Homo sapiens: one gene and its partner. The protein of the gene in region 1 purifies or fractionates together with the protein of each later gene. This does not show direct contact. Each region holds a gene or a part of one and is shown in the gene's direction. Other genes may lie near its edges.

Region 1 (3,494 bases):
CTTTATGAGAAAAATCCCTTTTTTCTACGGTTGTGTTCATTGTATTGTAAAGCAATCGTAGATTATTTTAAGGTTTTGAGTTAGAGTGATTATCCAATTTTATGAGGGAAATAAAGGAATTCCATGAGAAAAACGGGGGCTTTCCTGCAGGGCTCGGGGTTGCGGGAGCGGCAGATAACCTGATTCATTAACGTGAGCCCAGTGGGATTGGTGGGGGTGATGGGGACACAGATGGGAGCACTCAACTCAGGCACAGGACCCCAGCAGAACATGCCCAGGTCCTCCTAGACATGGGCCCTTGCAGACTTTCTGAGGCCTCGGTTTCGTCATCTTACCAAGGTGTGACCCCAACCATCATCTCCTGAACTTCTGGCCACAGAGCTGTGAGCAAGCTTCCATCATGACCCCATTTTGGAGATGGGGAGTTGGCGCAGCCACACTGCTGCTCAGTGGTAGAACCAGCATCTGACCCAGGCCACCTGTTCCAGAGACCCTGCTTTTAGCCAGCAGCTCAGACCCCAGTCATGTGGGGCCATTTATTTATTTATTTAAGATAGAGTCTCCCTTTGTCGCCCAGGCTGGAGTGCAGTGGTGCGATCTCGGCTTACTGCAACTTCCACCTCCCGAGTTCAAGCAATTCTCCTGCCTCAGCCTCCCGAGCAGCTGGGATTTCAGACGTGCGCCACCATGCCCAGCTAATTTTTGTATTTTAAGTAGAAATGGAGTTTTGCTGTGTTAGCCAGGTTGGTCTCAAATTCCTGACCTCAAGTGATCCACCCTTCTCAGCCTCCCAAAGTGCTGGGATTACAGGCATGAGCCACCATGCCCGGCCCACGTGGGGCTGTTTAAATTAAAATCAAATTAACTGAGTTCCTCCATTGCATTGGCCACGTTTCAAGTGTGCAGAGTGACACATGGCCAGTGGCTGCCATCACCGCTGATGTCGCCACGTCCCTCATCACAGGAATATCCCTGGCAGCCCTGCTCCCGGCCCTCTGCCCTCCTGACGCTCCCTTGTGACTTGTTAGAAAAGCGTAGGTACAGCTAAAAAAAAAAAAAAAACTGATGGCTGTGAGAATACTGTCACTCGCTGATGCCTTCTGTGTAGAAAAATAAGCCTTAGACAGATCTTCGCAAGAACATCGTGATGGCTCTCATAGGCATAATTACGTGTTCCAAGCCAAATTGCAGTTCAAGAGAAGGTTATAAATCTCTTCTTAATAACAATTGTACTCACGTTCCTCTCCTGGAAACTAAGAGGAAGGTAGCTGAAGAAACTCTCCCTGCCCAGTTAAATCTTGTTTTTTGGGTACTTTTGGACTCCAGGGTCACATCAGCAATGGCCCGGGACAGACGAGGGGGAGCCTTCATCTGTACTTCGTGTCTTTCCAGGGTGGCAATGACCATGAGATCTTCACAGACCCCAGAACCATGGGCTACTCCGTGACAGCGCCTGAGGACACGCGCAGGATCTGTGAACTGCTGTTCTCCTAACGTGGGAGCGGGAGGGGCGGGGTCCCGGCTGACAAGCCAGCATAGGGCATTCGGTGGCCAGAGCCGAGGGTCCTCCCACACGTGCTCACCCACCCGCAGCCTAGGCAGGCTCTGCATGCTATGCCAGGCATGTGCAGTCTGGACTTCCACCTCCAGTGCCAGAAACTTCCAGAAGGAAGGAGAAAACTCTTGTCAAGAATGGCCCAGAGGAATGCCTCGCACAAAAGGTCTTCCCCACCCACCCCCAGCCCCCTAGTCTAATACCCACCCTGATACGTGCAATCATGTAGTTTTGGCGGAAATTTCCCCATCATTCTAGGATGATACAGAAAGAAAAACTGTGCCTGGACCCTCCCTCTTGGTGGGTCTGTGGAAACATAAGCGGTTTTTTTAATGGGCCCCTGCATCAATACCAAACATGGGGGTTTGGTAATGAGAAACCAGGACAGGCCATCTGCAGTGACCCAGCCCAGGACGAAGTTTACAAACACCTCCTGGAACGAAGCTCCCGCCTGCATGTCACCTTGATGGGGGCTGTGAGTGGGGCAGTGTGATACCCAGTGACTAGACGCACTCTGCGTTTTCCCGTGTTTGGGGCTGAGGCCTGCTGGACAGATGGCTGGCCAAGTGGGAGCAGACCCTAGGGAGTTTGCACCTCGGCTGGGCCGGATTCGGACCGGCTCTGTGTTCACTACACTCAGAATAGCCTGGCTGCTTCTCTGTCTCCGAGACCGGAGGTAGTGGGAACCAACAGCTGGGCTGGAGAGTTGGTGCTGGCAAAACAGTCCTTGCCCTGGGGCCGGTTCTTACCCAGGTCCAGAGAAACCAACGCGGGATGTCAGACTTCACCAAAAGGACTTTCTGGTTGCCCCTGGCTGGCTTCCTGGAGGCGTTCGCCTCTAGTTTCTCAGGGATGGAGCGAGAGCCCAGCCAGAGAACAGTAAGAGGAGCTGCTCTCCTATCTGCACTCACCCAGGCCTTCACCCAGACTTTACCACGGAGGCGGCTGAGTGCAGCTACAGCTAGGTCCGCGTCCCTCACTCTTTTCATCTTCTGCACGTTCTTCGTGAAACTGGAAGGATCCCGGGTCTCAGCTAGAACACGGTGGAAGAGAACTTTCCTAGGAAACGGTTCATGTGTCACTTTTCAGGATGTGGAAACACTGAGCCATACACCCTCCATTGCTTGGTGCTGGGGTTGTGTGGCCTCCACTGGGCACTTGCCGACCTGAGTCTGGGGCCAGGGGAGCCCAGGCTGCCCTGCACTCCTGCCTCCCAGCCCACAGCCAGGTGCTTTCATCACAGCTAAACCTGGTTCCCTCCAAACCTCCCAGCCACTCGGGCTTGTAACTGTCTGAGCCCCGGATCCGGTGGGGTGAAAGCAGCCAGCTCATCCCAGTGACTCACAGGACACAGCCATCCAGCGGCATCTTTCCTTGTCGAATGATACTGTAATGACCTTCCAAAGTGAAGAGTAGCACATTAAAGTGATTTTATTGTTTCCTGTTTCTCATTCCGATTTCTTTTTCCTCCTATGTTCCCAGATTCTGGAATGGAACCCCAGCCCTTCCAGGTCTGAGAGCCACTCTTTCTTTACTCTGGATTTCTGTCACATCGGGGGCCCCTCCCTCTGCGGAGTTGCATGTTGCTGTTCCTGATGCACAGACTCCTCCCCCGCTGCTTTTCTGCCCACTGGGTCAGGATCTGCCATTCTTTACAAGTTTCCTTAACGTATTGCGTCAAAGCGAGACAACCGAGTCTTACTCAAACTTGTTTTAACCGGAGATGGAGGGTTGCTGCTGTGTCACCGCCTGCACAGGGCTGCCCTCAGGTGAGTACCCCGAGTCTGCCAGGCTGGGTGCTGATGCGCGGAGGTTTGGGCCGTCCCTGCCCCAGTTCCCACAGTGGCTGCTTGAGACCCTCCCCAGGCCCCTCGAGCCCCTCCTGCACTGTCTGCTGCCTCCCTTCTGCAGTCAGAATTGACACTCCCCTTCCACCTTC
Region 2 (3,500 bases), on another chromosome or scaffold:
TGAGATTTTAATAGGAAGTGCATTAATCCTGTGTACCAATTTGGGAAGAAATTACAGCTTTACTATATTAAATCTTCCAGTCCATGAATTTATTTTACATTTATTTATATATGTCTTTCTTCCTTCGTTTATTTTCTTCTCCTTCCACCATCCCCCCCCCCAACCACCCCCACCAGAATCTTGCTGTGTCACACAGGCTGGCGACAGTGGCACAATCATGGCTCACTGCAGCCTCAAATTCCTGGGCTCAGGTGATCCTACTGTCTCAGCCTCCCAAGTAATTGGGACGACAGCTGCGTACTGCTGTGCCTGGCTAATTTTTTTTTTTATTATTTGTAGAGACAGGGTCTCCCTGCGTTGCCCAGGCTGGTCTCACACTCCGGAGCTTAAGCAGTCCTCCCACCTTGGCTTCCCAGAGTGCTGCGATTATAGGTGTGAACCACCATGTCTAGCCTTCTGGAAGAGATGGTGTAGAACTGGTATAATTCTTTAAACCTTTGGTAGAATTCTCCAGATTAAACCATCTGGATCTGGAAATGTCTTTGTTAGGAATTTTTTACATTTTTAATCCAATTTCTTTAATAGATACGGGGTTCTTCAAATTATCTACTTCATATTGGCTGAATTATAGAAGTTTACATTTTTCAACAAATTGGTCCATTTTGTCTAAGTTGTTACATACATGTGAGTGGAGTTACAGTATCCTGTATTATGCTTTCAGTGTCTGCAGGGTCTGTAGTGGGTCCACTGCTTTATTTTTTTAACCCTTATTCTTGCATACTGACATTGCTTCATTATTATTTTTTGTTTGTTTTTTGAGACAGCATGTCACTCTGTCACCTGGGGTGGAGTGCAATGGCACGATCTCAGCTCACTACAACCTCCACCTCCCAGGTTCCAGCAGTTCTCCTGCCTCAGCCTCCCGAGCAGCTGGGATTGCAGGCATGTGCCACAATGCCCAGCTGATTTTTGTATTTTTAGTAGAGACAGGGTTTCACCATATTGGCCAGGCTGGTCTCAAACTCCTGACCTTAAGTGATCTGCCTGCTTTGGCCTCCCAAAGTGCTGCAATTACAGGCATGAGCCGCTGCACCTGGCCTCTGATTTTTTTATATAGTAGTTTATTCATTTGAGACTTTTCCTCTTATTTAATGTATTCATTTACTGCTATGAATTTCCCTCTCAGCACTGCTTTAGCTGTGTCCCACTAATTTTGATAAATTGCATTTTCAATTTTTATTTGCTCAGTATATATATATTTTTTTTACTTTCCTTGAGACTTTCCTCTTTGACCATGGATTATTTACAAGTACATTGTTTAGTTTCCAAATGTTTGGAGATTTTCCCATTATTTTTCTGTTTCTGTCTTTTAGTTGGAATTCATTGTGGGAGTAGAGTAAGTTCTATTTGATTTCAATTATTTTTAACTTGTCAAGGTTTATTTTATTGCTGAAAATGTGGTCTATCTTGCTTTAGGTTCCATGGGTACTTTGAAAAGAATGTTTATTCTGCTATTATTGGGTAAAGTATTCCATAAATGTCAATTATATCTTTTTGATTGATAGTGATATATATAATTCTTTTATATCCTTGCTGATTTTTCTATCTAGTTCTTCTGTCGATTGTTGAGAGACAGGGGTTGAAGTTTCCAACTATAATTGTGAATATTTCTGTTTCTCATTTCACTTATATCTGTTTTTGTTTCACATATTTTATTTTTTTTATTATTTTTTTGGAGATGGAGTTCCGCTGTTGTTGCCCAGGCTGGAGGTGCAATAGCATGATCTCAGCTCTCCGCAACCTCCACCTCCTGGGTGCAAGCAATTCTCCTGCCTCAGCCTCCCAAGTAGTTGGGATTACAGGCATGCGCCACCACACCCGGCTAATTTTGTATTTTTAATAGAGACAGGGTTTCTCCATGTTGGCCAGACTGGTCTCGAACTCCTGACCTCAGGTCATCCGCCTGCCTCGGCCTCCCAAAGTGCTGGGATTACAGACATGAGCCACCGCACCCAGCCCTGTTGTTCAATATATACACATTTAGAATTGCAACATCTTCTTGGTGGCATGACCCTTTTATCTTTATATAATACCTGCTGAGTCTCTGGTAATTTCTTTTGCTCTGAGGTCTACTTGTTATCTGATATATTATACAAGTATCTGAGGGCTACTTGATATATTATAGCCTATATCTGATGATATAGTTATTCTTGCTTTCCTTTTATTGATATTCACATGATACATCTTTTCCATCAATTTACTTTCAACCTACCCATATCATTGTATTTGAAGTGATATCTTATAGGTGGCATATTGTTGGGGTGTATTAATCCGTTCTCGCACTGCTGTAAAGAACTACCTGAGACTGGGTAATTTATCAAGAAAAGAGGTTTAATTGGCCCACAGTTCCACAAGCTGTACAGGAAGCATGGCTGGGGAGGCCTCAGGAAACTTACAGTCATGGCGGAAGGTGAGGGAGAAGCAGGCACATCTTACATGGCTGGAGCAGGAGGAAGAGAGTGAGGGGAGAGGTACTACACACTTCTAAATAACCAGATCTCACAATAACTCACTCACTATCATGAGAACAGCACCAAAGGGGAACTCCACCTCCATAATCCAATCATTTCCCATCAGGCCCCACCTCCAATATTTGGGGATGACAATTTGACCTCAGATTTGGGCAGGGACACATACCCAAACCATATCATGGGGCATGTTTTTAATCCACTGTGCTGATTTATGTCTTAATTGGTATATTTAAATTTACACTTAATATAATTTCTAATATGCTAGAGCTTAGTTCTGCCACTTTATTTTTTGTTTGTGTTCTGTTTTTGTTTTCTTCTTGCCTTCCTGTGAGTTTCTTGAATATTTTTTAGAATTCCATTTTGATTTATCTATATAGTGTTTTTGAGTGTATCTCTCTATACAGCTTTTTTAGTGGTTGCTCTAGGTATTATACTGTACATACAACAGTCAGTTGGTGTCGTCTTATAATCTAAATGAAGTCTGTATCATCATTTTACAAGTTTAAGTAAAGTATAGTAACCTTACCTCCCTTTATGTCCTTTTGCCATCCTCCATATATAATTGTCTTAAATATTTTTTTTATATCAGACAGTGCTATAATTTTTGCTTCAGTCATTAAACCTAATTTAGAAAACTCAGAAGGAAAGACTATTTAATTACATTTTTGTTTACTATGTGCTTTCTTCTTTGCTGATGTTTTCAGGTTCCTCTTTTTTTCATTTCCTTTCTGTTTAGAGAACTTCCTTTAGCCATTCTTTAGGGTAGATTGGCCAGTGATAAATTGTCTTTATTTTCCTTCACCTGAGAAGGTCTCATTTTCCCCTTCATTCTGATATTTTCACTGGATATTGAATTATTTAGTTGACACTTCTTTTCTTTGAGCACCTGTAAAATACTGCATCCTTTCCTTCTGGCCTGCATGGTTTCTAATGAAAAATCCATGGTCTTTCCAATTGCTTTCCCTCAGG

The links. Proteins that work in one complex are often made in the same cells at the same time.
Region 2: the proteins of PMM2 (region 1) and GAB2 purify together in Homo sapiens (co-immunoprecipitation; one large-scale study listed by IntAct). This does not show direct contact.

What each region holds. Positions count from the first base shown.
Region 1 is NC_000016.10:8,846,332-8,849,825, forward strand, and holds the end of PMM2 (phosphomannomutase 2), read left to right. Parts: intron 1-1,392; coding exon 1,393-1,494; 3' UTR 1,495-2,994; downstream 2,995-3,494. UniProt on the Homo sapiens protein: Involved in the synthesis of the GDP-mannose and dolichol-phosphate-mannose required for a number of critical mannosyl transfer reactions.
Region 2 is NC_000011.10:78,407,821-78,411,320, reverse strand, and holds part of GAB2 (GRB2-associated-binding protein 2), read left to right. Parts: intron 1-3,500. UniProt on the Homo sapiens protein: Adapter protein which acts downstream of several membrane receptors including cytokine, antigen, hormone, cell matrix and growth factor receptors to regulate multiple signaling pathways.